Linked DNA regions of Homo sapiens. The protein of the gene in region 3 purifies or fractionates together with the protein of the main gene of each other region. This does not show direct contact. Each region holds a gene or a part of one and is shown on either strand. Other genes may lie near its edges.

The links.
Region 1: the proteins of CXXC1 (region 3) and WDR82 purify together in Homo sapiens (affinity purification with western blotting; 7 studies listed by BioGRID and IntAct, with this or other methods). This does not show direct contact.
Region 2: the proteins of CXXC1 (region 3) and BOD1L1 purify together in Homo sapiens (affinity purification with mass spectrometry; 6 studies listed by BioGRID and IntAct, with this or other methods). This does not show direct contact.
Region 4: the proteins of CXXC1 (region 3) and SETD1B purify together in Homo sapiens (affinity purification with mass spectrometry; 12 studies listed by BioGRID and IntAct, with this or other methods). This does not show direct contact.

The regions. Positions count from the first base shown.
Region 1 is NC_000003.12:52,254,645-52,261,665, forward strand, and holds part of WDR82 (WD repeat-containing protein 82), read right to left. Parts: intron 6,836-7,021; coding exon 6,736-6,835; intron 5,858-6,735; coding exon 5,741-5,857; intron 5,229-5,740; coding exon 5,073-5,228; intron 4,623-5,072; coding exon 4,553-4,622; intron 4,035-4,552; coding exon 3,892-4,034; intron 2,876-3,891; coding exon 2,846-2,875; 3' UTR 1-2,845. UniProt on the Homo sapiens protein: Regulatory component of the SET1/COMPASS complex implicated in the tethering of this complex to transcriptional start sites of active genes.
Region 2 is NC_000004.12:13,624,706-13,632,201, forward strand, and holds the start of BOD1L1 (biorientation of chromosomes in cell division protein 1-like 1), read right to left. Parts: upstream 3,021-7,496; 5' UTR 2,883-3,020; coding exon 2,640-2,882; intron 1-2,639. UniProt on the Homo sapiens protein: Component of the fork protection machinery required to protect stalled/damaged replication forks from uncontrolled DNA2-dependent resection.
Region 3 is NC_000018.10:50,284,690-50,292,118, forward strand, and holds the start of CXXC1 (CXXC-type zinc finger protein 1), read right to left. Parts: upstream 3,004-7,429; 5' UTR 2,901-3,003; coding exon 2,898-2,900; intron 2,820-2,897; exon of another isoform or gene 2,737-2,819; coding exon of another isoform or gene 2,734-2,736; intron 2,170-2,733; coding exon 2,051-2,169; intron 1,951-2,050; coding exon 1,850-1,950; intron 1,569-1,849; coding exon 1,333-1,568; intron 1,240-1,332; coding exon 1,060-1,239; intron 663-1,059; coding exon 636-662; intron 559-635; coding exon 313-558; intron 151-312; coding exon 43-150; coding exon of another isoform or gene 31-42; intron 1-30. UniProt on the Homo sapiens protein: Transcriptional activator that exhibits a unique DNA binding specificity for CpG unmethylated motifs with a preference for CpGG.
Region 4 is NC_000012.12:121,800,057-121,807,029, reverse strand, and holds the start of SETD1B (histone-lysine N-methyltransferase SETD1B), read right to left. Parts: upstream 3,022-6,973; 5' UTR 2,797-3,021; intron 2,657-2,796; exon of another isoform or gene 2,641-2,656; intron 2,307-2,640; 5' UTR 2,293-2,306; coding exon 2,119-2,292; intron 1,913-2,118; coding exon 1,814-1,912; intron 1,196-1,813; coding exon 925-1,195; intron 1-924. UniProt on the Homo sapiens protein: Histone methyltransferase that catalyzes methyl group transfer from S-adenosyl-L-methionine to the epsilon-amino group of 'Lys-4' of histone H3 (H3K4) via a non-processive mechanism.

The DNA.
Region 1 (7,021 bases), on a different chromosome or scaffold from region 3:
AGCAGTAATTATAATTACAACGGGAAATAATTTCTTTAAGTACCCAGTGCAGTGTCACTGTCAAATAAACATCAGTGGCTTTGGCCCCAATTCTTAAGGTGGCAAACGCCGCTGCCCCACTCCCCACCCATCCCCAATAGGGCTTGAGCACCTGTAGCCCTGCTGAGCACGTCTGTGCAGCCCCAGCCCTCAGCATCTCTTCCACTCGCTTCCAGCTATATCTTTTCCCTTTCCTTCTTAATTCAGGAGGCAGCTTTGCAACCACAGGGCCCAACGATAGAGACTGTGAGGTGGCATTTTTTTTTTTTTTTTTTTGAGACGGAGTTTTGCTGTTGTTGCCCAGGCCGGAGTGCAATGGCACGATCTCAACTCACCGCAACCTCCGCCTCCTGGGTTCAAGCAATTCTCCTGCCTCAGCCTCCCAAGTAGCTGAGATTATAGGCGCATGCCACCACGCCCGGCTAATTTTGTATTTTTAGTAGAGATGGGGTTTCTCCATGTTGGTCAGGCTGGTCTCAAACTCCCGACCTCCGGTGATCCGCCCGCCTCGGCCTCCCAAAGTGCTGGGATTACAGGTGTGAGCCACCGCGCCCAGCCTTGAGGTGGCATGTTTTCAAAGAACATGGTGCTCAGTTTTGGACACACAGGAACTCAAATACAATCATTTTCCTGCTGCTAAGTAATGCTTGGTGGCTGCTCTGGTTGCAGATATGTGAAGTTAGGTAGCCTTTCCTGTTAACCCATGGTTCCAAGCACTCTCTCTTAACAATCATTCCTACTGTGAATTTTCTACCCGGAAAAGCCAGGGGTGGGCAATAACAATTAAGATCATTTGGTTTCTAAAAGTTCTTCCTCTCTGGGAAAGCAGAACTATACAGTGGGTGGCATCCTGCAGATTCTAGTCTACATTTGGGAAAGGTGTACGCCTCTTGCACTTTCAGAGGAACAAGTCAAAAAGTAATTGCTTAAAAAAAAAAAGTGCTAGCAATTCACAGCCTATTCCTGCCCGCTGAACAGAAATTGTGATGCCTTGATTTACCCCCTAGCAGCTACATATTCTTGAGCAAGTCATAACCCTATTGTGCCTCAGTTTCTGGATCTGCAAGGAGTGTTGCCTGCATAAATGTTTGTTTAGGAACTTAGTAAAATGACATACTCCTCTCTCTGCTCTAAGAAGGCCATGAGCCAGCTGCAGCTCATCTCACTCAGCCTGGGCCTGACCAGAGTCCTTTCCTCTTCCAAGAGAAAGCAAGGAAAAGCAGCAAGCAAGCAGACATACCAGGTCAACAGGAGTGATCTATCATTGGCAACGAGGCCTCAAACAAACTGCAAATGCTCTGGCTTCAGCACCTTATCCCCAAATGCCACAAACCAGACATGGAAGCCATGCAAGAGTGACTATCACACACACACACAGGCACAGACAGAGTACCACCAAGCAAAAAGGGGGCTAATACTGCAGAGATGGCCCCAAAGTGCAGCTTGAGGAACACAGCAAGTCATCCCAAGACCCTCACTTAGCTGCCAAAGAAACAGCAAACACTATCAGCTTTGCTTCAGTCTTCTGAAATGAAAATATTAATAAGGAAGACTCACTAATACTTGTGGCAAACACTATTAGCAGGGATGCAGGGTGTCTCCTGGGCTGCAGGACTCCATCTGCTTCAGCTGAACTCTTGGAAACTACAGATGAGAGATATATGCATACGCACACACATATATGCGTATCTGTATGCACACAGATGTATTTAAATGAAGGTGCATACACTGTGCTAAAATACAAACAACAGAAATCAAAGGTCATATATAAAAACGCTAAATATGACATATAACACAGGCCTAGAACCAGCTCTTGGTTGGGAGCTGGGGAAAGGGGTGGTATCATCTGAAGACTATGTACACAATTTGTGGTGGGCAGGGAAGGCATCAGTGTAAACAACTCAGACTCACTTCACAATACTGGCCCACAGGTAAGTGTGATGTATCTCATGTACAAAAATAGACTCCCACCTTGCTTTTGTACAAACCAAGCTTGGTAGGCACCCAGGAGGACCGTGGGTTTGTCTTGATGACAGGGCACTGCACCAGGCTGCTGCTAAACCTTCCAGCCCTAGGAACTCACCTGCTACCCTCCCGCTACCCTCCCCTTTCCCTCCCTTTCAGGCCCTTGGGTCTTTTTCCCACCCAACACCTACAGCCCGAGGCCTGCCCAACCACCTAGCCTCACACGACTAACTGCAGAAACTAACTGCATGGCTTCCTGCAAGCAAGGTCCTTCTGTATCTGTCCCTTTCTCTGACCCCAAGATATATGAAAATGTTTCTGTAAATGTTTGGCACCTAAGAAACATGATGGTTGTGGATAATGCCACAAGTACACAGGGAGACCCAGTAACAAGACATGCAGGGTGAGGGCAAGCGGCTGAGCTGCCCAAGCATTTCAAAACCAGGACTTTGGCTTCCCATGCAGTTGGAGGGTAGAAGGGATGTGCGGAACTGATGACTTCACCGGCTCCTCAGCAGCATGTACATTCAAATTGAAGATGCTTGAGAGCCCCACTATACCAAATCGTGAGTCTGGTCACTCCTCCAGCAGAGCTTGGTGCAGTGACAGTTAGAAAAGCTGAGTTCCAATTGAGTCTGTTGCACCAAGAGTCCTTTTGAAGACGCTCATCAAAGTAATTATTTTCTTTTGAGCAGATGTACAGCACATCCATGGGAAGGCCATGTAAAAGGATGTTCTCCAGCCCAGTCAAATGATCCAATCCCACTATTATCTCAGTTCCCTCTGAGTTTCTTCCTGCTGGCCGCCCTCACTATACAGAAATAGCCAAGCAGCAACAGGGTCAGTCATCAATGGTGGGCAACCAAAAGGCCTAGAAGGAGAACATAAATCAACTTTAAAAAGCCAAGCATCTCCTCACTGCCAACGGTTCTTCACATCCCACCCCACAGCAAAAATGTGCCCAACCCCAGTGGCTCTGGTAGCCCTCTCTCCTAACCAACCAACCCCGATGCTCTAAGGAGACAGAAACACTCTTTCCTCTATGTGAAAGTAAAATGGTTCTGTTTTTCTCCAATAATCACTGTCCACCTTCCACCAAAGCAGACCCCCCGCCCCCTTTTTTTTAAAGGAAGGGAAAAAAAGGAGTGCTGCCTGGGAGGTGGGTGAATAAGTAACCTGTCCTCATTGCTAATCCACCAGGTTACCTCCAACAGGCCCCCACCTTCCTGGGCTGTAAAAAGTAAGGAACTGGATGGTTTTGCTGTATTTTTTCTAACATTTTTTTCTTGGTTAAAAAAAAAAAGCAAGGTGGCAATGTGCTCCGGGTAGGCTAGTAATGAAATGTCTCATCCCCGAATACCCAGGCAGGTTTAGGAGATCACAAGGGAAAACTGGAGCTGAGACTCACTGATCCTTTGTTCTGTTAGTATTATCTAGGAAGAGATAAGGGCCTGGAGTTAATTCTAAGTGGTGAGTTATGACCAACTGTAGAAATTTCTGGGAATTTGGCGTAAACCAACAGGAATGGAAAACTGAAACCACAAAAGGCCGGTTCAGAGTATTTTAAGGAGCAAAAAAATTGCCAAGCATAGCCCAGGTAGTTTGGACCTAAAATTAGGGTCCAGAGCAAAAACTGGCCTATGATCTCCTTGGAACTCAAAGATGATTCCTGATCACCTCTAGGAAGAATAAAAATGAAAGGCAAGACCAGCCCAGCCAGAGATCAAATAATAGGAGATGAAATAGGGAAACCACCAGTTGAGAAACATGTACTTGGATGCTTGTAATGTACCTATGTAGAACACAGCTTGCTGTGCTTGTTGAGGCACCCACCACCCCAACTGGGAAGGGTCCCTGAGTAGCAGATACCTCTTACTGTTCACATACCATGTTGGAACACGCACTGGCAAAAGTCATGAACTTGGGGTTGAATTGCAAACAGGTAATCGGGCCTGTGTGTTTACCATCCAACACAGCTACTTTTATACCGCTCTCTCCATTCCAGACATGGATCTTGCCATCCTCTGAACCTAAAGAGGATATTCACGGAAAATGTAACAGCTCAAGGCGCAATACAAAGACAACTGGAAATGAGACATGGATTGAGATCTGAGGATACGCCAAGCTTTAGGACCCATCCCTCAGGCAAAATTGAGAGGGAGGAGAGGCAGTGAAGGAAGGACACTTTGGAAATTTATCTTGACCCTAGCTATTTGTTCACAGGCATGTCACTTCCGTTCTAACTTCAGTTTTCTCATCTAAAAAAGGGGCCGAATACCATTACCCTACCAACAGGCAGCCACTAAGATGACTGAATGTAGGGTTACACCAGGACATTAGCATTACTAATAAGGTAGTGCTTGTGGAGTTTAACTCAAATTTTGGTCCAGTCAGGGCAGTTAAAAGACACTATGTCCTTGGCATAATGTGCTATACAGAAATCTAAGAACATCTATCAAATAGATAATAATGTCTCAGTTAATAATTTAAACAAAGAAATGCATAGTACCAGAGAAATAACCCCCACAGGGGATAAAAGGAAACTCACCAATCATAATAAACTGAGAGTCTGGAGTAAATGAAGCCTCCAGTGTGACAGCTTTGCTGTTGGCATAACCCTAAAACAAAACAGAGCAGTTCTTTTGTTCTTACAGAGCCATTAATAAAAACAGCTGCCTACAAACACTGACTCAGCACATGCATCACCTTCCTTTCCATGAAACCCTTTCCTTGTCATGTACTACACCACCAAGCTTCCAAATGTGGTTGCCATCGTTGACAATCCACTCCCACCCTCAACTCTGTATTCAAGGCATACTCAAGGGGGCAAGAAAACTTTATTGTTAGGAAATTATTTTATATCTAAATACCAAACTTGGGTCACTTGGTGAGAAATGAACATCTACGAAATCCAAGAGAGGTAAGTTCATGAGCAGGAAGAAAATACAAGTGCATGCCTTCATGAGTAAGTCAAGAGTAACTGTTGGTCTCCACCAACCAGCTAACATAATTCTTAGCATAGGAAGTATGAGCATGGAAACAGCCATGCTTGAAGGCTGTCAGCTCACCCCAAATGTGTGCATCACCACTCCTTTGAATGCATCAATCAGACGAATGAAGCTGCCGTTGGTGGAAATGAGGATGAGCTTGCCATCATTGCTGAATTTAAGTCCTGTCCACTCACAAGTTCGATCATACTGCATCTTAAAGGTAGCAAATGGCCCCTGCAAAAGATAAAAAACAGTAGCCCCAGGCATATTAATAATTTCTTCTGCTAGAGCCAATTCCCATCCTATTCCTTTAGATTACTTTTTGACTAAGGAAAGCAGAGAATGAGCTACTTCTCTGCCACTCTCTAATATCTACCACATTTTTCCTTTTGTAGAAAAGGCTCTTACAGGGCCGGGCGCGGTGGCTCACGCCTGTAATCCCAGCACTTTGGGAGGCCGAGGTGGGTGGATCACCAGAGGTGAGGAGTTTGAGACCAGCCTGACCAACATGGTGAAACCCATCTCTACTAAATACAAAAAATTAGCCAGGCGTGGTGGCGGACACGTGTAATCCCAGCTACTTGGGAGGCTGAGGCAGGAGAATCACTTGAACCTGGGAGGCAGAGGTTGCAGTGAGCTGAGATTACACCACTGCACTCCAGCCTGGGCAATAAGAGCAAAACTCTGTCTCAAAAACAAAACAAAACAAAAAACAGCTCAAAGATCTCAAAGATTCAAAGATTTACCTTATCAAAAGAACGAAGGTCATAAAGCTTGACCATTTCAGAGTTGACACCTGCAGCGAAAATTAACCCTTCTGGATCAAAAGAACAAACTGGCTTCCCCTGCAGATGCATGAGGCCCTAAGAGAAAAGAAATAAGAAATACACTAAAACACACATGCCACAACCATACGTGGAATAACCAAAGACTGCTGGTACAATGGGGAAAAAAAAATGAATCCAGGACCTTACCACTATATAATTTACTTTTCCCAATTAAAACTAAGAAAGGCATACAAACAAATATCAGCCTACCTACAGAACACACACAAAAAAAACATAAAACTAAAATGAAGCTTTTAAAAAACAGGTCTCCAGACAACAATTTCTGATCAACTCTAACTGCACAATATTACAGACACAGAATTCAAATAAAAATAAATCCCTTGAAGCTAAAAGCTCTAGGAACACTTTTAAAAACATTAAGCCAGCTGGGCGCAGTGGCTCACGCCTATAATCCCAGAACTTTGGGAGGCCAAGGTAGGAGGATCACCTGAGGTCAGGAGACTAGCCTGACCAACATGGAGAAACCCCGTCTCTACTAAAAATACAAAATTAGCCAGACATGGTGGTGCATGACTGTAATCCCAGCTACTTGGGAGGCTGAGGCAGAAGAATCGCTTGAACCCTGGAGGTGGAGGTTGCGGTGAGCTGAGATTGCACCATTGCACTCCAGCCTGGGCAACAAGAGCGAAACCCTGTCTCAAAACAAAAACAAAAACAAAACAAAACAACAAAAAACCCACAACAATTAAGCCACAGAGTACAATGCAATCTGCACTAGATTAGGGTATGTGCTTAGCAGCTACCAACTAAAAAAACAGATTTTCTCCAAAGTTTAAAAAGACCCTGTGATCCCAGAATGGAACCACTGTTTTCTCCCTTCTTTGAGAGGTAGAGTTCATTACAGTGCCTACCAAAGAAAATGCTCAAAAAGTATAACTGTGAGGTACCATTACCTGGCAGTTAGGAGACCGGAGATCCCAGAGTCGAATGGTCTTATCAAGAGACCCAGAAATGAAAGTGTCATCCACAGGTGACATGGACAAGGCCACCACCCTGCAATACATCGAGATAAATAGGAGTTGATGCGAAATATTAGCAAAAATTGGATGTGAATTCTAAACCACTCTGCCTATCTATACATATATATACCTGTTCTCCCAAAATTGCCATTTTAAGAAACACAATAAAACACACATACCACAACCATATCTGGAACAAACAAAGGCAACTAGTATAAAA
Region 2 (7,496 bases), on a different chromosome or scaffold from region 3:
TGGTGTAGCAGCAGACTTTGGTACTTCTCATCCTGGTTTAAACACACTAAACTGGATGACAGTTTTGCTCTTAGCACCTGGCAGGTATCAAATGTCTTCATTCTTAAATATGCACGTGACAGACATAATCCACTATAACTCTATATGCTACAAGTTAAGACTTTTTGACAGAAAGCAGGTCAGTCTTTGAGGTTCAAGTGGCAGATGAAACTCAAGGATTCCATTAAAGTGATGGTTCTTTGCATGAACAGGGAATCTTCTACTTTGGCCCACGGTGGCCAGGCATGAGCCACCGGGCCTGGCCATACTGTTGCTTTTTAAAGTTCCTGCATCTGTGGCTGAATATGTCTTATTACTAGAAGAAGGGTTGATCATCAATTCTATTCCTATTTCTAATTTTTATAGTCATGCGCCCTGAGAAACCTTGTTCATATAAACAAGTACTGTGCCTCGGAATGGAAGAGTTTTGTTGTAACAATATCATTCAATTCTTGACCTCAAAAAAGAGGCTAAGAACATTAAAATAGGTTCTTATTCCATGGTTCCTGAACTCACTGAAACTGTATATGTTATTAGATTGATTCTCATGAAATTGCCTATAGTTGACCATTCTGAAGTAGAAAAACAGCGTTTTAATGTGTTACTTGCGCATTTTTCTTGAGAGAAGGTCCTAACTTTCATTAGATGATCAGAGATACTGTGCTTCCCTCCTTCCCTCCAAAAAAGGTTTTAATCCTTTACTTTGAAGGGTCTGGCAGGGATATTATAGACACATACCAATAACATTTTGTGGGAATAGGATAATAAAAAAGTTGAGCCTCAGACATTGCAGCAGTACATTACAATTTTTAATTTGTATACATAATGATTCATGGGTTTCTGAGAACACACAGATTCATGGGTTTCTGAGAACAGCAAAGTAAAAATTCCACTTGTTGAATACGAATAACTAACTTTATTTGATAACATTTACCTGGCCATGTCTAACCTTTTCCCATTAAATAACAACAAAAATAATAAAGGCAATAGAAATTATTTCTAAAAGGTAGCAGTGCATATTCCTGAAGACAAAAGTAAAAAAAACTATACTTCCTAAATAGATGAACACTCCCAAGTGAATTGAATTCTCTGTGGTGCAAAACCTCCAATATCCCGAAAAACCACGTTTTACATAGTGGGCCCAGTATGAGTCCTTATAAAGGAAGATGTACCAGGATATTCAAGAGTTTCCCCAGAAGACATAGTGGAACTGTGTGCAGTTCACCTGAAAGCTTTAGAAGAAACTGTGGATGTTGTAAACATGCATTTCTCAAAGATACAAAGCTCCTCAGAACAACTAAACATACTATGAGAAAACCCTCGACCGGGCGCGGTGGCTCATGCCTACTGGGCGAATCACGAGGTCAGGAGATCGAGACCATCCTGGCCAACACGGTGAAACCTTGTGTCTACTAAAAATACAAAAATTAGCAGGGCGTGGTGGCACGCGCTTGTAATCCCAGCTACTTGGGAGGCTGAGACAGGAGAGTCGCTTGAACCCGGGAGGCGGAGGTTGCAGTGAGCCGAGATCACGCCATTGCATTCCAGCCTGGCGACAGGGCGAGACTCTGTCTCAAAAAAAAAAAAAAAAAAAAAAAAGGAAACCCTCATTTCATCAAAACTCCAATCCAATGGACCCAACCAGATTTAACAAGCAGACAAAAACAACCCCTACAAACCAGTTAATTTTCCAACATGCTTTCTGCTTCCAGAATTCTAGACTGTACTGTGGTTTTCCATCCATCTCACTGACTGCTCTTTCCTGGTGTCTTTGGCTAATTCTTTGCCAATCCAGCTAAGTTTACTTGTTCCTGCTAATGTCCCTTTCACTCTGACATTTGGTACAAAATCCCTTCCCCTTTCCAGCCTCTCTTTCTGGACAGGGAACCTTGTTGCTGTCCTTTCCCTTCTCTACATTACTCTCCTGAATCTGCTCTCTTTCCTGTCCTTTCTCCACTTCAGTATCTGCTGTCACCTCTCCTGCATCTTTTCTCCACTGAATGACTCGGTTCTCTCTACCCCACCTTCCTGTCCCTTCTTACCTTAGAATGGTGACATGGCCTAAGTTACCTAAATCAGGCAATCACTGCTAGAAACAATACTAAAGTCCTGTCTCAGGTTTGCCTCCTTATCTTTGCGCTCCCACCCCCACGATGTCCAGCAAAGCATATTACACATAACTTGATTCAATTACCATTTAGTCATTTCTCCAAAGGATAAAGGCCCTTACCGCCCAGAAACCTTCAAGAAAGAAGGCAAACATAACTTCGATACAAAGTAAAATCATCAGATATGAGAATGAATACAAAACTGGCTACTGTTAGCGCCACTGTTTCCAAACCAGTTCCTGTAAGAACAATGCCTTAGTCTTGCTCATCAGACCGGGGTAATCACTGTGCCGAAACCATGACTGGCACGTAGTAGGTACTTAAACACTAGTCGGTAAAACGAACCAAAGGACACGCTAAGGAATGAACACTCTGTGCTTTGCACAGTCCGTGGCACACAGCTGCAGCTCCAAGAGGAAGCCACTGCAAAAGAAGCGCGCCCTTGGGTCCTCCCCTTCCCTCGCAGACCCCCAAACCCGGCGCGCTCCTAACCTTGGTGTCCACGTCGGCCAGGCAGTCTCTGCGGAACTGGTCGAAGAGCCCCTGGCTCTTGAGGTGGTTCACGATCATGGCCACGAGCTGCGGGTCCCCGGCGCCCGCACCCGCGCCGCCCGCCCCGCCCGCGCCGGGGCCAGCCCCGGGGCCCGGCGGCGGCGGCGGTGGCTGCGGCTGCGGCTGCGGCGGGGGAGGCGGCGGCGCCGGAGGAGGCGGCTGCGGCTGTGGGTTGGTGGCCATGGTGGCCTGTGCCGGGGAGGGCAAGGGCCCTGACCGGCGGACGATCCTGGGAGGCGGCGGCTGCACTGGTCCCGCCGCCTGAGGGAAGCCAACGGGATGTTGTTACGGAACCAGCGGATCCAGAGCAACCCCGGAAGTGAAAGGGAACTGGGGGAAAGGAGGAAAAGACGGTGACAACATTGACGAAAGTCCGGCGACGGAGGCCGCGAAGAGCCAGTTTCGACCGTCGCCGGGCGCAAGCGCCCTCGCGAGGCCGAGCTGCGCCGGAAGTGGCGGCGACTGTGGCGACGGAGACGACAAGACTGTGCTGGTCGCGGGTTGTGGGGTTTAGGTCACCGGCAGGGGTCTGGAGTCCCTGGAGGTTAGGGCTTCGACCCGCGCGACACCTGGGGCCCTAGGTCTGAGCGGGGGCAGTGCGTTTCTGGCCCCGCTTCATCCGCGACGGCATTTTAGGCCTGCCTCTCTTGCTCCAGTTTCCCGGAGCAGTGCATAGAGATCCATAGACATTTGTAATGCGAACCCTACGTGGATCTGCTCATTCTAACTTCGCCCAACCCTCTTCGTTCTTAGCCTGTGATCCTGCACTATTCTTGTCCCAGCAGGTAGCTCCAAGTTCCTTCTGTCTCTCTTCTGCCTGCACATACCATTTCCCCGTGGGGGTCCCTTGTTTCTGGCAGTGTGCCTGTGGATTAGATCCGATCCCTCCAGCCCGTTCTTCCTATCTGTGAAGACAAATCGACAGGCTTTTATTTTTAGGAGATTTGCTATTGATTACTATGATTATAGCAGGTAAAACATCTATAGCACATATTATGTACCAAGCGTGGCGTTAAGTGCTTTTACATGTATTAACGCATTTAATCTTTGGACAAACACTAAGAGCTAGGTCTGATTACTGTCCCCAGTTTGCAAATCAGGGAACCAAGGCTCAGATAAATTAAGTATGTTGAGTAAGATTACACAGCTAGCAAATCACCTGCTTTTGGACTGCATCATCTTTGAAATTATTATTAGTACGTGGTCAAAGCAACATAAATATTAGAAAATTTCATAATTACTAAATAGTGTGTGTAACTTTATTGAAAAATGCATATTGTTGCTTTTTAAAGTTCCTACATCTGTGGCTGAATATATCTTATTAGTAGGAAAAGAAGGGTTGAGCATCAATTCTATTCCTATTTGTAATTTTTATAGCTGTGTGCCCTGAGAAACCTTGTTCATATAAACAAGTACTGTGCCTAGGAATGGAAGAGTTTTGTTGTAGCAATATCATTCAATTCTTGACCTCAAAAAATTAGATTTGATTATCTATGAGCTGACTTCAATTAGGCCCTCCTTCTATTTTATGGAAAGCAAAGAGCTGAAAACCACCTGGCTTGCCAAAGGATTTGTTTACTTAATCCTTATTTTTTCACTCTTTCAGATTCTGGGAAATATACCAGATAGGTTTTACCAAGATACCAAATGACTATGAATTAGACCTGATTTTTTCAATGAGGTGTACCTTTCACCTGATATACTGAAAGTTTGGAGAATATCTAAACATTTTTCATTTTCATAAATAGTTTTGGATAAGATTTATTTTTGTTATCAGGTGGTTAAATTATGTTTTTGTCAAAATTTGCAACTGCAGATTTAGCTCATTCAAGTTCAAAATCTTTGTCACTGGGCACAGTGTCTCACGCCTGTAATCCTAGCACTTTGGGAGGCTGAGGCGGGAGGATCGGTTGAGTCCAGAGTTCAAGACCAGCCTGGGCAACATGGCAAGACCCCACCTCTACAAAAAAATAAAAGAAATTAGGCGGTGTAGTGGCGTGCACCTGTAGTCCTACCTACTTGGGAGGATTAGGTGGGAGGATCACCCGAGCCCAAGAAGTCAAGTCTGCAGTGAGCCATGATGGGGCCAGTACACTCCAGGTTGAGCAACAGAGTGAGACCCTTCTCAAAAACAAGAAAAAAAAAGGTTTGTTAAGAATGTTAAATGTTTACCTTATAACCTAATTAACAGAGCCCATTTTCATTGTCAAACTAGACAAATCAGATTTACTTTAAATCAGAAACAATTTGACTTCATTGTTTCAATTCAGAGTATCCTGTGTGTTTTGAGGAGTTTGATGAAGATAGCAGAGAGGAGAAAGTCATGGATATGAATCTTAAAAGATTAATTACTATATGCAGTCAAGGCTGGGCGTGGCAGCAAACCCCTGTAATCCTAGAGCTTTGTGAGGCTGGGGCAGGTGGGTGGCTTGAAGCCACAAGTTCAAGACCAGTAACAAAACAAAACAAAAAAGTAACCAGGTGTGATGTTGCAGACCTTGAGAAACTGAGGTGGGAGGATTGCTTGAGCCCAGGAGGTTAAGACTGCAATAAGCTATGGTGGTGCCACTTCATTCCAGCCTTGGTGACAGAGTGACACCCTGTCTCAAAAAAAAAAAAAAAAAAAAAAGCAGTCAAGATTACAAGACTAAAATAGCGTAAAATATAAATGTTTTATTCATTTTAAAAATTAGTTATGAGCCGGGCGCGGTGGCTCACGCCTGTAATCCCAGCACTTTGGGAGGCCGACATGGGCGGATCATGAGGTCAGGAGATCGAGACCATCCTGGTTAATACGGTGAAACCCCGTCTCTACTAAAAATACAAAAAATTAGCCAGGCGTGGTGGTGGGCGCCTGTAGTCCCAGCTACTTGGGAGGCTGAGGCAGGAGAATGGCAGGAACCCGGGAGGCGGAGCTTGCAGTGAGCCGAGATCGCACCGCTGCACTGTAGCCTGGGCGACAGAGTGAGACTCTGGGTCTCAAAAAAAAAATAAAAAAAAATAAAAATTAGTTATGAAAAGGTGAGACTATAACATTTACTTAATTACCAACAATACAATATAATATATGTTGCTATATTCTAAGTTTATAAGTTTTTAAGTGTGTGGTATGATAAAAAGACATGGTATTTCTTTGGTATATTTGGATGTGTGAATCAAATTTATTCAGCTTTTTGGGAATAACTAAGTAGAAATCATCCATAAAAGTTCTGAAAAACTTTACAAATTTAATTAGGCATAATGTCCAAGTTTAAAAAAGTAATGAGACAATAAAGTATTTACTGCTAAAAATGAATTGGGTCAGTGGCTAATAAATAATTTGTTTTGTGAACAGTATATAGAAAATCTTAAATATTTTCTACAATGCAAGAAGATGAGAACTTTATAATGGTTCACAATCCATTTTCTCAAATGTGCCCTAATTGCCTTATTGAATAACACACACTGAATCTAAAAGATACATCTTTGTATCTCTGAGTTCAAGTTACACTGGGTAGACACATTATACTGGTTGCAATGTAACTTGAACAATTTTGTAGCCTTGAAAAACATTCTAGATACATTGAAAAGAATCTGGGTCACCGATCTGCACTGCCTTGGCTGTTCCAAGGTGATTTTCTTTTCGTATGAATACAGGTCCTAGGGATGAGTGTTTTAAATACCCAAAAAACAACAACAAAAAGCATACATTTAAATCTTTTTAAAAGACTGCTTTAAGCAGTCAGCATTTCCTACCAATGACGTCTTTGCTGTGTTTCCTCCTGATTGTCTCTCTAGAAAAGAGTATATAATTTCTTTTTTTTGGTAAATTATTTTATTTCTTCCATGATGATTTAGAGGGACTATATTCAAACCAGTACAAATATTTCATAAATAATATCTTGCCATTTTCTAACCAATTGAGTAATTTGTTCCACAATAAGCTACCTCACATTTTTCAGCAAGAAATACGTTAAATTTGAACAGTAAAGACATTACATAATGAATTAGGACACAATTAAAATGTGCTTTAAATATTTCTTTAAGGGAGAAGACACCACACTTCTACTCAATGAAGATAAACTTTTTTTTTTTTTTTTGTGACGGAGTCTTGCTCTGTCGCCGAGGCTGGAGTGCAGTAGTGCGATCTTGGCTCACTGCAAGCTCTGCCTCCCAGGTTCACACCATTCTCCTGCCTCAGCCTCCTGAGTAGCTGGGACTACAAGTGCCCGCCACCATGCCCGGCTAATTTTTTTTGTAGTTTTAGTAGAGACGGGGCTTCACTGTGTTAGCCAGGATGGTCTCGATCTCCTGACCTCATGATCTGCCTGCCTGGGCCTCCCAAAGTGCTGGGATTACAGGCATGAGCCACCTCGCCCAGCCGAAGAGAAACATTTTTGCAGTCCAGAGGTCTTTTATTTTTTTAACACTTATTTTGCCATGAATTCATAGGGAATAGATTCCAGCAGCTCAGTCTCCTTCCCATTGGTTCTCACAAACTGTGCTTCCCTGGGTGGAGCAGGCTGGCACTTCAGTTGAACCCAGGTACCTTTCTCTTTGTTTTCTTTTTCTGGTCATTTTCCTTCATGTGTTTCAGGAAGCTATCTCGGCTCTTAGTGAGCTTAATGTGCTCGATACGCACATTAATTCTCTTGGCAAGAATCAGGCCCTTGTTGGTATACAACAATGCCAGCAGCGTGCTGGGTAACATTGTAGACTCTTCTAGTTGTGCCATGGTAACACTTGTGGGGCATTCCTTTTTGAACAGTAGCCATTCTCTTGATGTCTACAATATCACCTTTTTTTTTTTTTGAGACA
Region 3 (7,429 bases):
CCACCCTCTGCCTTTCCACATCCACTTTACCCTCTCCATCACCTTCTTCTCAGACTTCTTCTCCCGACGCTTCACATGCTTCACTTTCACTGCCCTCTTCCGCAGCGCGGGGTCCAGGAATGGGGACTCTTCTGTGTCGCTCATCCAGGGCTGCAAGCAGGGCATGCACTGACCCACCTGCCCCGCTCGTGACAACCCCACCACCTACTCATGTCCCATATCAGCCTTCCATACCCTCTGTCTCCTCATTAGGGATACTCTCTGCTTCTGTAACCTCCACCCTTCCACCAGTGGATGCTCCTGTCTGCTCACCAGGCCATGGTCATCAAAGGCCCCTGCACAGAAGTCCTGATACAGGTCAGGATCCAGAGGTAGGTCCTCATCTGAGAGTGGCTCAGGTGTGGCTGTAGCCTCAGGAGGCTCCTTGACTGTTGATGACGCCACTGCCCCCTCATCTTCACGGATGCGCCCTAACTTCTGTGATGGCTGTGGCTGCTGTTGGGTGGGCAGTGGCCGGCGGGGCCTTGGCAGGGACTCTGAGGGCGTCACTGGTGAGAGCTGCAGGGCAGAATCTCAGGACTGGCCCTGACCGCCCTGCCCGCATGCCCCACCCCACCCTGGGGGGCTGGACTCACCGAGGAAGGGAAGTACTTGTACGATTCCTGTGCCGGCAGGAGGAAGGCCCAGGTCAGCCCCAGGTGGATGGAGGGCGGCCTTGCCCTAGCCCTACCCACCTGGCCTGGCCTTACCTCCCCAGACACACCTCCCCGCTACCCCTCATTGCCAGGAATGCTCAGCCCTGCCTGATCTGTACCAACATGCATGACCACCTGAAAACACCTGGCCCCACTCTGTCTACCCAGGGTTGGTGGGGGTGTTCTGCCAGCCCAGCATACCAGGTCATGCCCCATTCATCTGGACATGACAGGCCCCTTCCCACCTGTCAGGATACAGTCAGGCCCAATCCCACCTGGTTTATCCATGCCTAGACTTAACTAACCATGCATGGACCCACCAGCTCTCCCACACCTGACCCTACCCAGCTCTGTCCATGCTCACCCGGGCCCGCAGCTGGCACTGGCGCAGCCGGCACTTCTGCCGGATCTTGTTGGGGCCCCCGAACTTCTTCATGTCCCGACAGAAATCACAGTGACCACAGTCCTCAGTGCGCCGACATGCCTCACACTCACCACACATGCGGGCTGACCGTTTGATCTGCTGCTGCTGCTGCTGGTGATGCTGCAGGAGGGGGCCCAGAACAGAAATCATGGACCCAGGCAGGGCTGAAACGGAACCACTTTACACATCCATTCACTTTATGCAGCCACTCACCTGGCTGGGTGTGGCCACCAAGGGCTGCGGAGAGGATTTGTGGGGCGAAGCAGAGCCCCGAGCAAGCATGGCCCCAACCCCTGTCCCTGACCCTGCCCGGCGCTGCAGGTCTGGATCAGGGACAGGCCTCTTGCGCCCTCCACCCTCATCCCGGGGCTCACTGCTGTCCCGCTCATTGCCATCCCGCTCCCGTGACTTCTTGTGCCGATAGCGAATCTCTAGCTTGGGGTCTTTCTCTGTGGGGCAGAGAGTAGGGCCAAAGTGAGTGAGCACTGGATGGCTTGAATGGTCCCAAAACCTCTTTCTTCCTCTTCGCTCCCTTACTGACCCACCCACCTACTCTGCACCCCTGTCCAGGGCAGAGCTGCCTCTTCCCGTGGGATCTTCTATTACTCACAATGGAGCCCCATTCCAGCTCACCACAGACGTGTATCACTAATCCCCATAACCCCCCCTTGTGGCTCCTCCTCCTCCCTTGAAGCCCCACCTGCCTTCCCTGTCCATCCATGGCCCTCACCTCTGCACTCCCGACAGTACCACTCCCGGATGGCCTTGGCCATCTTCTCAGTGATCCGGATGCAGTCCCCATGGAACCACTCATTGCAGTTGTCACACCCGCTGCAGAGGATGGGGCAGGCGATGGAGATGTGAGGGGCGCGGCCCATCGGCCTCACCCCACCCTGCCAGTGTCAGCCCCGCCCATCTCTCCCGCGCTCACATCATGAAGCAGTTGATGTCCGGTTTGCGGCAGATGCAGTAGATGGGCGCATTCTCCCCATTCTCGGACTTGCTGTCCTCCCCGGCATCTGGAGGCTCTGGGTCTGAACCATCTCCCTCCTGCAGGACACCCCCATTACGGATCCTTAAGCAGCCCCCACCGTGGCGGCTCATCCCCCCATTACAACTCCACCGTGGTCAGCAGGGATCCCCACTCTGCCTGCAGATTTCACATCGGGGCCCCCAAAAAACCTCTCCATCACAGTCCCCACTGACCCCCATCCCTTCCTCTGACATCCTATTACTCTGCTCCATACTTCCCATCACGCACCCACCGACACCCGCTCCCTGCGTCCACACTCGCTAATGGGTCATGGCGACCCTCCATCGTGGCGCCTCACAGACCCCGCGTAACTCACTGCGGACTTCCCATCGCGGTTCTCCACGCACCCCTCCCTGTTTATCTCATAGACCCACCTGGCACCCGCACCCACCCCCAGTCGCGGCTGTCCACGGATACCCGGACACGGACTCCTCGTCACGGCTCACTACAGACCACTCAATGTGACTCCTTACAACCCGCTTATCCCTCTGCCCTAAGAACCCCCGATCATGGTTTCCCACGGAACTGCCACACGGAGTCCCCACTAAACTTCTATTAAGGAGCCCCCCACCGTGGCTCACCATAGAACTCCCAGATGGTTCATCATTCTGCCCATAGACTCCCGCCGTTCAGTCCACAGACTCCGGTTATGGCTCACCACAGACCCCTGAGTCGGCCGACAGACCCCACTGTTGCCAACCGACCGACCTCCACCGCCGAACCCCTCCCTGGACCCGCTACTTACCATATCTCCGCTCCCGGCGCACTCCCTCACGACCCCCGCCAGCGACCCGCGAACCTGCACAGACCACTCGGCGGCGTCCCAGGCGGTTGCAAAGGCGCCCACAACTACTTCCGCTTCTAGTCACGCCTCCCAGGCAGCGTACTCCTATTGCGCAGGCCCCATGCGTCGTCTCCGCTGCAAACCAGTAGGTGGCCGGCCTAGAGCCCCCAAGACCCCTCAGGCGCCGCCATCTTGCTTATCGTATCCGTATGGTGGCCGAATCCATATGTTCGCCGGGAACATGGCCGCGCTCTAATGTGGCTTTCCCGAGGGCGCCGCCACCTTGTCAGTAGAGTCCGTACGGCGGCTGCTTGTACGGCCTCGACGTACAGGCAACATGGCTGCACCTACTGCGTGACTTCCTCATAGATGCCGTCATCTTGGAATCCGATTCCGTACGTGGGTCGAATTCCGTACGTTCCTAGGCGACATATGACGGCGACCTAATTGCGGATTCTTCACGGGCGCCGCCATCTTGGTGGTTGATTCCGTACATTGCCCGTTTGTCAGGCAGAGAGGTTCACAGGTAAAGTGACCGCTTCCGAAGCACGACCTGGATCAAGTTGTATTCATTCCTCCATTCAGTCTCTTTCCCCTTCCACATGTATTAATGGGGCGTCGGCAGGCTGTGTGCCTTGCGGGGCGGAGGAAACCAGTTCCTCTGTCGTCTCCGACTTCACCTGCCACCACTCTTTCCGGCTTTTACTCCTCCCACTTGTCATTCTTCTGCCAGGCCTGGCACGGTTCGGCTTCTATTTATTTTATTTTTATTTAAAAACAATTCTTAAACTAATATCAAATCTTATTTTAGTTCTATAAGCTGCACAATAAGCCTAAACACAGTTTACTTATCCATTTCTTTATTGTTTAGCATTTAGAACATTTTCAAATATTATTCTAAATAAAGTTGCAACGAACATTCTTAAACATAGATCTGTATGCTCATCCCTGATTATTTCTTGTGAAATGTGATATACAAATTTACAAATATACAAATGTGATATACCAGGTGTAACTCTGGTTAACAGCTGTAAGATGGAGCCTGGAAGCCAGGCTTTATTTATTTATTTATTTATTTATTTATTTATTTTATTTATTATTTATTATGTATTTATTTATTTATTTTTATTTATTTACTTATTTTTTGAGACGGAGTTTCACTCTTGTTGCCCAGGCTGGAGTGCAATGGCGCGATCTCAGCTCACTGCAACCTCCGCCTCCCGGGTTCAAGCGATTATCCTGCCTCAGCCTTCCGAGTAGCTGGGATTACAAGCATGCACCACCATGCCCGTCTGATTTTTTTTGTATGTTTAGTAGAGATGGGGTTTCACCGTGTTGGCCAGGATGGTCTGGATCTCCCGACCTCAGGTGATCCGCCCGCCTCGGCCTCCCAAAGTGCCGGGATTACAGGCGTGAACCACCGCGTGCCTGGCCCGCCTGGAAGCCATTCTATGGACTCCCTGCAAACTTGCAAAAAGGAAAACAAACAAAACAAAATTAAAACACAACAGGAACTTGCCTCGAACCTTTGAATTGGTCCAAACTGCAATGACCACACAGTCCTGGAAACCAGCTATATTTCACTAGTGCTGCGTCTCCTGAACAACAACCAATGAACTATGGACTGATGCCAGCCAGCCGCCTCCACCAATAATAATTTCTTTAAAAGAACTTGTGTAATCACCCTTAGCTTCCTTTTTCTTTTTCTTAAAAACTCCTTCTCCCCTTCCTATCTTTGGAGTACAATTTGACTTCGAGCTGAATCTGTGTCTCCTGAATTGCAGTTCCTAATGCCCCAATAAACTCCTGCATTGCAGCTTGGTCTCTTGCCTCTTCTTAGTTGACTCTCCTTAGAGATAAAATTCTAAAAGTAGAATTACTTTGTAATTGGCTATAAATATTGTAAGACATGTTCAAATTTATAGGAGGTCATTAGTTTGGACAGAGCTCCTGCTCTAGGCCCCACCAAAATGGAGTCACTCACGCTGAAGTTCCATGCCACCAAGCCAAAACTAAATTGTTCATCTGACCTTCCAAGGAGAAAGAGACAGGATAATAGCCAAATCCCCATACAAGCCACTTTTAGCTTGAAAGTCCCCTTTGCTTTAACCTTTATAAAAAAGCAACCTGAAGCAATCTGATGTTAACCAATCAGCTTTAAAAAAAAAATTGTTCTTTTTCCTTGCTCCAACCTTACAAAATTCACTGCTCTGCTATTTCCCAGGAAAAGCTCTCGTTCTATTTTGTATAATGGGATCTGCCCCAATTCATGAATTGCAAGTAAAAGCCATTACATCTGTAACTAAATTTGTTGTAATTTTGTCTTTCAATGGTTGATACATATATTTCTACCAGCAGTGTATGAAGGTTCCTATATCAGAGCCTTATTAGGTTATTAGATTAGTGCGAACTTTTGTTGTTGTTGTTGAGACGGAGTCTCACTCTGTCACCTAGGCTGGAGTGGAGCGGGCAATCTCGGCTCACTGCAACCTCCGCCTCCTGGGTTCAAACAGTTCTCCTGCCTCAGCCTCCCGAGTAGCTGGGATTAGAGGCCCGTGCCACCACACCCAGCTAATTTTTGTATTTTTAGTAGAGATGGAGTTTCACCATGTTGGCCAGTCTGGTCTCTAACTCCTGACTTCAAGAGATCCACCCCCACCTTCGGCTTCCCAAAGTGCTGAGATTACAGGCGTGAGCCCCTGCGCCCGGCCAGTGCAAACTTGTAAATTCATCACCCTTGTCAGTAAAAAACTGTCAGCATTCACAGCCATTTTATAAATACTACACATTACCACAGCAATATAGTGCAAAAATCAGAAACCACATAAAATACATATTTAAAGGAATGAGATAAAAATAAATATAAACATCTCTCATATTTTCTCAAATCCCCAGCACCATCTGAAATGCTGCCCTTGAGGAGCTCCCAGTTTACACTATTGGTGCTCACTTTGATCTGTGTGCAGTCTGGTATGGACATGGTGAAGCAAACAAAGATTAGTATTTTGTCAAATAGTAAATTTTTCATAAGTCTAGCTTGATGATGATGGTAATAGTCATAATTTTAAAAATCTTCTATTTGGTTAATGGTTGATAGTTCGCAAGATACTTTCGCACATGATAGTTTATCTGATCCTAATTGCCTTATACGGTGAATGGAGCAGGAGCCTTATTGTCCCCACTCTGCAGTGAAAGCAATTGAGACTCAGGGAGCCTAAGTCCCTTGCCAGGTCACACAGCCAGTAATAATGGATCTGATATTAATAGTAAAATCTTCCTACTGTGAGTGTTGGGCTGTGGGCTGGAATCAGGGAATAGACTCAGGGAAGCCCCAGGACGAGAGAAGCTAGATAAAAAAGTTCATGAGGCAAGCACAGAATGGAGCAGATTCTGAAAGCTAAGGGTCACAGTGGACCTGAGTTCAGGAAATGGATCAGAAGTCCAGGGGATCAGACACCAGGAATCAGGATTAGGTTCTTAGGCAGGAGAACAAACAACACAGAATGAGAAACTAAGTACAGGATCTCAGCACAAGGTGGGGATCACAGGAAAGGGAAAGGAGAGCTCAACTCTACCAAAGATTCCTGGGAGGGGGACGGAAGTCTTCCAGACACTTCTTGCAAACAGCAAGGATGACATAAATATCCGAAATTCAATGACAAAACCATGCTTAGCACTTCAATTCTAATTTGCCAGCAAGCACAGACAAAATCAGTACTGGAATCATTCGCTGAGGAATATACACAGTCTTGCTTTCTGAAGTTTTAGTTACCCATGATCAACCATGGTCTGAAAATATTAAGTAAAGAATTCAAGAGGGCTGGGCACAGAGATTCATGCCTGTAATCCCAGCACTTTGGGAGGCCGAGGAGGGAGGGTTCCTTGAGCCCAGGAGTTTGAAACCAACCTGGGCAACATAGCAAGACCTCGTTTCTACAAATTATAAACACTTAGGCCGGGTGCAGTGGCTCACGCCTGTAATCCCAGCACTTTGGGAGGCTGAGGCGGGCAGATCACGAGGTCAGGAGATTGAGACCATCCTGGCTAACACGGTGAAACCCCGTCCCTACTAAAAAATACAAAAAAGTAGCCAGGCGTGGTGGCAGGTGCCTGTAGTCCCAGCTACTCAGGAGGCTGAGGCAGGAGAATGGCATGAACCCAGGAGGCGGAGCTTGCAGTGAGCCGAGATCACTCCAGCCTGGGTGACAGAGTGAGACTCTGTCTCAAAAAAAAAAAAAAAAAAAAAAAATTAGCCGGGCATGGTGGCACGTGCCTGTGGTCCCAGCTATGCAGGAGGCTGAGGCAGGAGGATTGCTTGAGCTCGGGCTGTCCAGACTGCAGTGAGCCATGACTGCATCACTGAACTCCAGTCCAGATGACAGAGCAAGATCCTGTCTCAAAAAAGAAAAAAAAAGAAAGAAAATTCCAGAAATAAACAATTCATAAGTTTTAATTACCATGCCATTCTGAGTATTGTGATGAAATCTCACACC
Region 4 (6,973 bases), on a different chromosome or scaffold from region 3:
TGCCCTCCCAGGCAGGGTTTCCCAGGGGACCCCGGTGGGCTAGGGACCGAATGACATCTCCCCACAAGCTGGCTGGCCCTCAAAGCACTCGGCACCTTCTTTTATAGGTGGGAGCTTCCCTAAAGAGGCCTCAGGCACACTTTGGGGAATGCCCTCGAGTCCTCCAAGCCCCTTGGTCCTGCAGGGGCCTCCGAAGACCCACAGGGTGGGAGGTATGGCCTCCCCAGCCAGCTCCAGAGAGCACCTAGCTGATTCCAGAGCAGGGGAGGTGCTGCGGTCTCTTTAAGAGAGAGGAGGGAAGACACAGTGTCAACCCTTGAGCACCCAGAGCCGCCTGCCTGGCTCTTCCCTCTTCCCGGCTCTGCTCTTCCCCGGCGGCTCTGTCGAGAACCTTATCAATGAAACAACACTCCTGGCCCCAGATTGGCTGCCACTTCCAGAGGGGAAGGGGCAGCAAGGAGGTGGGGGGACACCCTGGATCCTTAGAGGACTCTCTTTTCAGTTTTCAGACCTTCTCTTGATGTATTTCAAGGCATCCTAGTGGCACTTCCTCAGTCCCCCACAAGTAAACAAACTCTGTCTCCTCCCCTAACACAGGCAACACTGGGGACTGTCTAAACCCAAGCCACCAGGGCTCAGAGAGGGGGCCCGCGGGGGTGTCAGCGGTGGGGAAGCCTCCGGGTGGTCCCTAGGGGTGCGGTGGCCAAGGACCGGCACATTTGGTAAATTACAGACTGTCTCCTAGCAACAGACAACACATTTAGCTCCACGCGACTCTACCCTCAGGAGGGGGCTAAGAAATAAGGTTGTGGGGGGGGATCCCAAGGAAGAGTGAGGGGGGGTCCTCCCCACGCTGCAGGAAGGGTGGGGAGGGAAAGGGTCGGGCTGACAGGTCTCCCCACGCTCCTCCCCTGCCAGGCTCACCTTTGGTGTCCAGCTCCACGTGGATAATGTTGCCCATGACGGAAGTGCTGTGCAAGTGCTGAACGGCATCCTTGGCTCCCCGGACCGTGGCAAAGACCACCTTGGCGATGCCCAGGTGCTTCTTGGTCTTGGGGTTGTACAAAATCTCCACCTCCTCCACCTCCCCATACTTCTTGCACATGTCCCTCAGGAAGTTTTCACGGATGTTATCATTCAGCTTGGCAAATGTCACCTGCTTCGGAGGCACCGGGCCCACGTAGAACTCATCGATCTGGCAGGGGCCGAGGGGGAAGGGAGTTTGAAGAACGTTTAAACCTAAGGGAAAACACAACATCCCCCCCGCCCCGCCCGCAACTCGCCCACCCGTTGAAAACAATAAAGGGTAAAAAAACTAAAAATTAAAAAAAAAAAAAAAATTTTTTTTGGAAAAAAAAAATGCACGCGGGCGGGCCCGGGAAGCGGAGGATTAAATCGTTTGGAACGTGGAAGTCCTCTGGGTTCGGAAGGAAAGGGGAAAAAGAAACAGTTTCTCTTTCCCCACCCCCCTTTCTGGCCTTCTCTTCCTGCTGCCGGGTCAGGGGCGACCCCTCAGGCTTAAGAAGTTGTCCTGTAGTGGGCTAGCGAGAGGGGAGAGTCTCGGAGCCGAGCCCCCCGCGGGGCGTGCAGGACACTGTATCTGCGCCGTGATTACAGTTTCACCCAGTGTTATTTTGTTTTCAGTAGCTGAGAGGGGACACCCTCTCGCCAGCGCTCTACCCCTCCCCGCCAAAACTTCCCTGGCCCCGGACGGCGGGAACTGGGAATCCGGCTGGGCTCGGTCAGGACTGGCGTTATTTTCGAACTCGGGGAGGTGGGGGAGGGACGGCGGGGCAGTGGGGAGGGGTCCTACCTTGAATTTGGGCACCGACAGCTCCAGCTCCTTGTTTTTGGTCCAGATCCCGACGACCCGGGGATCTTCGACAATTTCCACCGGGCGGTTGCTGGACATCTGTGGGGAGAAATTGGGGGGCCGGGATGAGAGAACTGGTCCCCCTCCCCATGGGCAGACCCCTTTCTCGAGGCACTTGTCAAACTCCAGGGCTGGGGCCCCGTCTGACAGTTGGCCGGGGGATCGGGCGGGGGGTCCCTGGCCGCTAGGCGCGTCTCCCCGGACACGACGCGGGGCACGGCTGGGGGGGCGCGCCGGCTACTCACCGCCAGGCTGAAATGCTGCCCATCGTAGCGGTACAGTTTATGATGCCCCTTTTTCAGAGCCGGGTCAATCATCAACTTGTAACTTCTCCAATGGTGGTTCCTCCTCTCGCCCGAAGGGCCGGGCTGCGGCGGGGGCTGCTGGTGGTGGTGGTGGGGGGGGTGACTGTTCTCCATGCCGTTAACCCAACCTGAAAACCAGCAAGTTGTTGTCGTCTCCGCCGCGGCGGCGGCGGCGGCCGCTTCTACACACACGCGAAAGAATCCAATCGGCAGGCCCCCACCCCCTCCCACCTTGCCAGCGCGCCCCGAAAGGAGCTGTCTCGCTGGCTCCCCCCAAAACAAGAATGGAGCGAGAGAATAACCCTTCCGGGAGAATTACGCGCCCGCCCGCTCGGCCACCGTCTCGGGGCGGCAGCGAGGGGCTCCCGGGGGTCCCCTGGGCGGGCTGGCGGGGCCCGGGGCGCCCGGAGGACGCGGACTCCGGCCCATGGTGCCCGCCCGGCCGCCCGGCGTGGCGCTCACCCGCTAGCTCGGCCCGGCTCTGGCGCGAGGCTGGCGGCAGGGCCTGGCGGCGCCGCCGCCCGCCCGCCCGCTCGCCCGCTCGGGCCAGGGCCGGGGCCGGGGGCTTGGGCCGCCCGGCTGCCGGCCGCGGCCTCTCCCTCCCCGAGCCGCGCTTACATCCCCGCCGGGCGCCGGCCTCCCTGCGCCGCCAGCCAGTACATGGTGTCCCCCGAGGGAGCCGAGGCCGGGGCGGCCGGACCGGGGGCCAGGAAGGGGGGGCGCCGCCGCCGCGGCTGCCGGGCCCGGAGCTGCTGCCGCTGCCGCCGCCGCTGCTGCTGCTGCTGCCCGGGAGGCGGCTGGCGGCGGAGGCTCGGCTCCCAGTAGCCGCACATCCCACAATACACCGCTAAGGAGCCCGACCCGAGCGCTCACCCTCCTCCTCTTCCTCCTCCTCCTCCTCTTCCTCCTCCCCTCTCCTTCCTCGCCGCTTCCCCAGGCACTCTCCCGGCGGCGGCAGCTGCGCCGCCAAAGCCCCGGGCCCCAGCGGCCCCCCACCCCTCACTCGCGCGCTCCCACACTGCCTCCCCCTCCCCGGGGGAAGGCCTTTTAATTTATTTATTTTTCTGGGACTGGGGTGGGGGTCTTGGCTGGCGGGGGAGGGGGTCTCCCCGGGCTCTACCTCCCGCGGCCGGGACTACCCTCAGAGCCGCGACCGCCGCGGCGTGCGTCCCGGGCCTGCAAAACTGTTTCCAAACTGCCCGGGCCGGAGGCGGGCGCGCGGGGCCCGGGGAGATGGCTGGGGTCTGGGGGGCCGAGGGTGTGTGTGGACGCTGGGAGCCGCGGGGGGAGGCCGGCGTCGACTCAGAGGAGTTGCAATCGAGGTATCTGCGCTCCGGCTTCCTCCTGCGGCCCGCGACCCCCTCCCCGGAGCTGAGCTGGGGAAGGGAGACCAGGGTTCACCACGTTAGCATTCGCATTCCTGGGAGGATGCAGCCCTCGCCTGGACCTGGGCGATAGACGCCTTCTTCTGTTTTTATTTTTGGAGGGGAGCGCCCTGTAATTGTCCTGAACACATGCTTCCCCCCCTTCCTCCAGCCACCCGCGGAGGAGAGAGTCCCCCTTTTTTGCATTTATCTTTTCCTTCCCCTTTCTTTATTAAAGGTCCGGGAGTGGCGGCGGCCAATCAGCGCGCGGCTTCCATTTTGTGAGTTCAACTCCGAGGCTCCCGGGCTTCGCGAGGACGCGTTTGCAGCCCCCTCTGCCGCTCCTCTCTGGCGGCCGAGGCGCAGGAGCCGCCTCGCCGGGGCTCGGAGCTGGTGTAGCTCATATTGGGGCTCTTTTCGGGGTTTGTAATTTGGCCGTGGGTAGGTAATTGGCTGGAGCAGGGCGGCAGGGCGCGGCAGCCAATCAGCGCGCGGCTTCTATAGGGCTTGAGTTATTAGACGCTGATCTCAAAACATCCTTCATCAGACACGAAGGAGAGGCCAACAGATGAGGGAAGCCATTTTTCTGCAATGGAATTAAATGGCCAAGTGGGTTTTTCCTTTGTTGCAAATGGGGAATGTTTTTCCTTTGACTCTACCATCCAGTTCAGGACGTCTCAGTGTGTTTAACATTTGTCAACAGGCCCAAGGACTCACAGTTGGAAGACTGGAGAAGACTTTTTAAAAAGATCTGGATTTTTCCTTATGACTTGGAATCCATCTTTGTCTTGTATAACTAGGTCATAGCACACCATTCATGTCAGCAGTTAACAGTTTTGAATTCCAAAAAAACCTAAGTAAATGACATATTTTTTTTCCTCTTTTTGTTCTATGGGTGGGTGGGGGGAGCTTGGAGCTGTCTTAATCTGTATTCTCTTGACTGAACAATAAATTTTTAAATATATCTAGTTTCCTCTATTAAACACTTAAACCTGGCCATCTTATTAACTCCTTCTCTCTTTTTAACAAGGTAATGTTTTAAATGTATATAGCTTTAGGACTAGCGAAATGGCAGCAACAAAAAATTGTGAGCAGTTGTTACTCTTTTAGTTTTTAAAAAACCTTTTACATTGTAAGTACCCAATCCATTCTGTCCTGACGCAGTACAGTTTTGATGTTAATGTTGCTGAGATGTCCTTAATTTTCCGAACCTTCATCTGCATGTATGTCTTTGTCTCTCTTGTCTAATATAAGCCAGTTAAGATGCTTGAGACGATCTTGCTTTATAAAGCTAAGGTTCTAGCTTTATGCTTTTGAAAATGTTTACAGCACTAAATGCTAGTCAGCTTTCTTCCCCGTAGCTTGTACACTTTCTTTGAAAATCGATCTATTTGAAGAAAAACAGCCCTGTTTTTCTCGTCTTTGGTGTTGGGGGTTGGGGGGAGCTGGTGGGTGAGGGAAAGGAAGACCTTTTCTTTGTGTAGAGAGACTAAAGCCGTCACAGGAAACTAGATTAAAACTGGAAAACAAGTCCTAGCTGGTTCCAGCAAACACCAACGTTAAGTGGGGGGTATTTTCTATGGTGGTTGGGCGGCTGGTGCGTCTTGTGCCTTTTGTTTGATTTGACTGTATTTTCGCCTTTTGTCTCTTAATGACGATCACACCATTGCTATATCCAGAGCAGTAAACAGTCCTCAGCGAAGCCGCCTTTTTGCCTACCCAACCCTGGAAAGTTTGCAGAAGTGGAAGGAGCAGAACGTGAGGGTGTAACTTACAAAAAGGTAATAAGAACAAAGACACCACCATAACCCCCAAATTTCCCAACTAAATCAAAAAATATATATGTTTTTACAATAACGTCTCCAAAACCACCGCCCAGCTTGATCTTCTAGACTCCATGGCACCGGGCTGAGCGGGTAAGTAAGAAAGATAAAAAGTGCCTTTTGCCCCTTCGAGGAAACCCTTTTGCAGGCCAAGCAAGGGCTGCAAGTGTTTGGGAGCTGAGAGGAGAAGGAGGATTCTGGAGCATTGTATTTGGCAGCCGGAGCGGGCAGTGGGCGGGGGGTTGGGACACGAAGGGCTCTTCGGACCCCTGTGCCTCTTCTGCCCCAAGGGCGAGAAGACGGGCTTCGCAGCGACCCTCGGGGGTCCATGGAGCCGCCTGCCTTCGCCCCCTCGCTCTTCCCAGGTCTGAACCTGGATGGGGAGAAGAAATTGAAGTGCTTTGGAGACGGGGGGGCTTAAAACACTAGGGAGCCTCATCGCCCAGCCTTGGGCCCACTTTCCTTTCGATCGTGAGGATTCCGCACCCCGAAGCCGGCTTCTCGGGGCTCCGGGGCGCGCCTGCGCTGGCAACGCGAAGGAGGACAAAAGGCCGGCGTCCATGTTGGCACCATGACGCAGCATCTCCGCCCGCAGCCCGGAGCTGCTGTCCTCCCGGCCGCGCTCGCTCCTCCTCCCAAACACCAGTTTTCTTTACAGGCTTCGAGCCCGTCGCGGCTGGGCCGGGCTGGTCTGGCAGGCGGGCCCAGCCGGGCAGGGCTGCTTTGCTAATGGCGGCGGCTCTCTTTCCTTCCTTCCTCCTTTCCTCCGTCCCCCCGGTCGTGGGGAGCCCGGAGCAGGAGGCGGGCCCGCGGCCAGGTCGGGCCCCGAGAGCCCGCGGGGCGCAGCGCTGGCGACCGGGTGTCGGGGGCCGTTTCGGGGGCCGTGGGCCTCGGGGGCGTCGCGCGCCGCGCCTCCCGCGCTCGCCTCAGCCGGGCGCGGCGGCCTGATGGGCGCCATTTCGCGCGCTGCCCGTGGCTGGGGCGGTGGCGGCCGCCGCGCGCCGGGCGGGAGGAGCGGCAGGGGTAGGGGGCTGGGCGACCCGGCGGCCCACGCGGGCACCAGGAGGCCTCGCCCCGGACCGCTTCCCTCTTTCGTCTTTGTCCTGCGCGGGCGCCCGCAGCCGAGGGCCACGGGGTCGGCGGGGCTTCGAGGCCGCCCCGGGTCCCACCGGCTCCTCCGGAAGCCGCGGACCGGCCTGGCCCTGACCCCAGGCCGCCCCCCGCTGCCCACCCAGCTCTGGGCGCCCAGGTCCGACCTCCCAGTCGCCCTCTGAGAGCCGAGTCAGCGCGGGGCGGGGGGTCGCCCCCTTTGTCCTCACTCAGGGCGGGAGGCCCTCGGGGTGGCCGCAGACGCCCCGTTGGGCAGCCCTCCAGCCCAGCTCTCCAGGCAGGAGGTGGGGGAAGCCTGGGAAAGCGGAGGGGGGGCCCCGGGATCCCCCGAGGCGCGGGGCTCCCGGCGAAGCCTCAGATCTCCGGCCCTTCCCGGGGAGGGTGCGGGCGGGGCGGGCCTTTGGAAATGCAGATGAGCCGCCGCCCGGGCCGGGGTTGAACCTTCTGACTCAGCCACCCCCGGCCGCCCGGGCCGCTGGGGGAGGGGCGGCGTCTGGG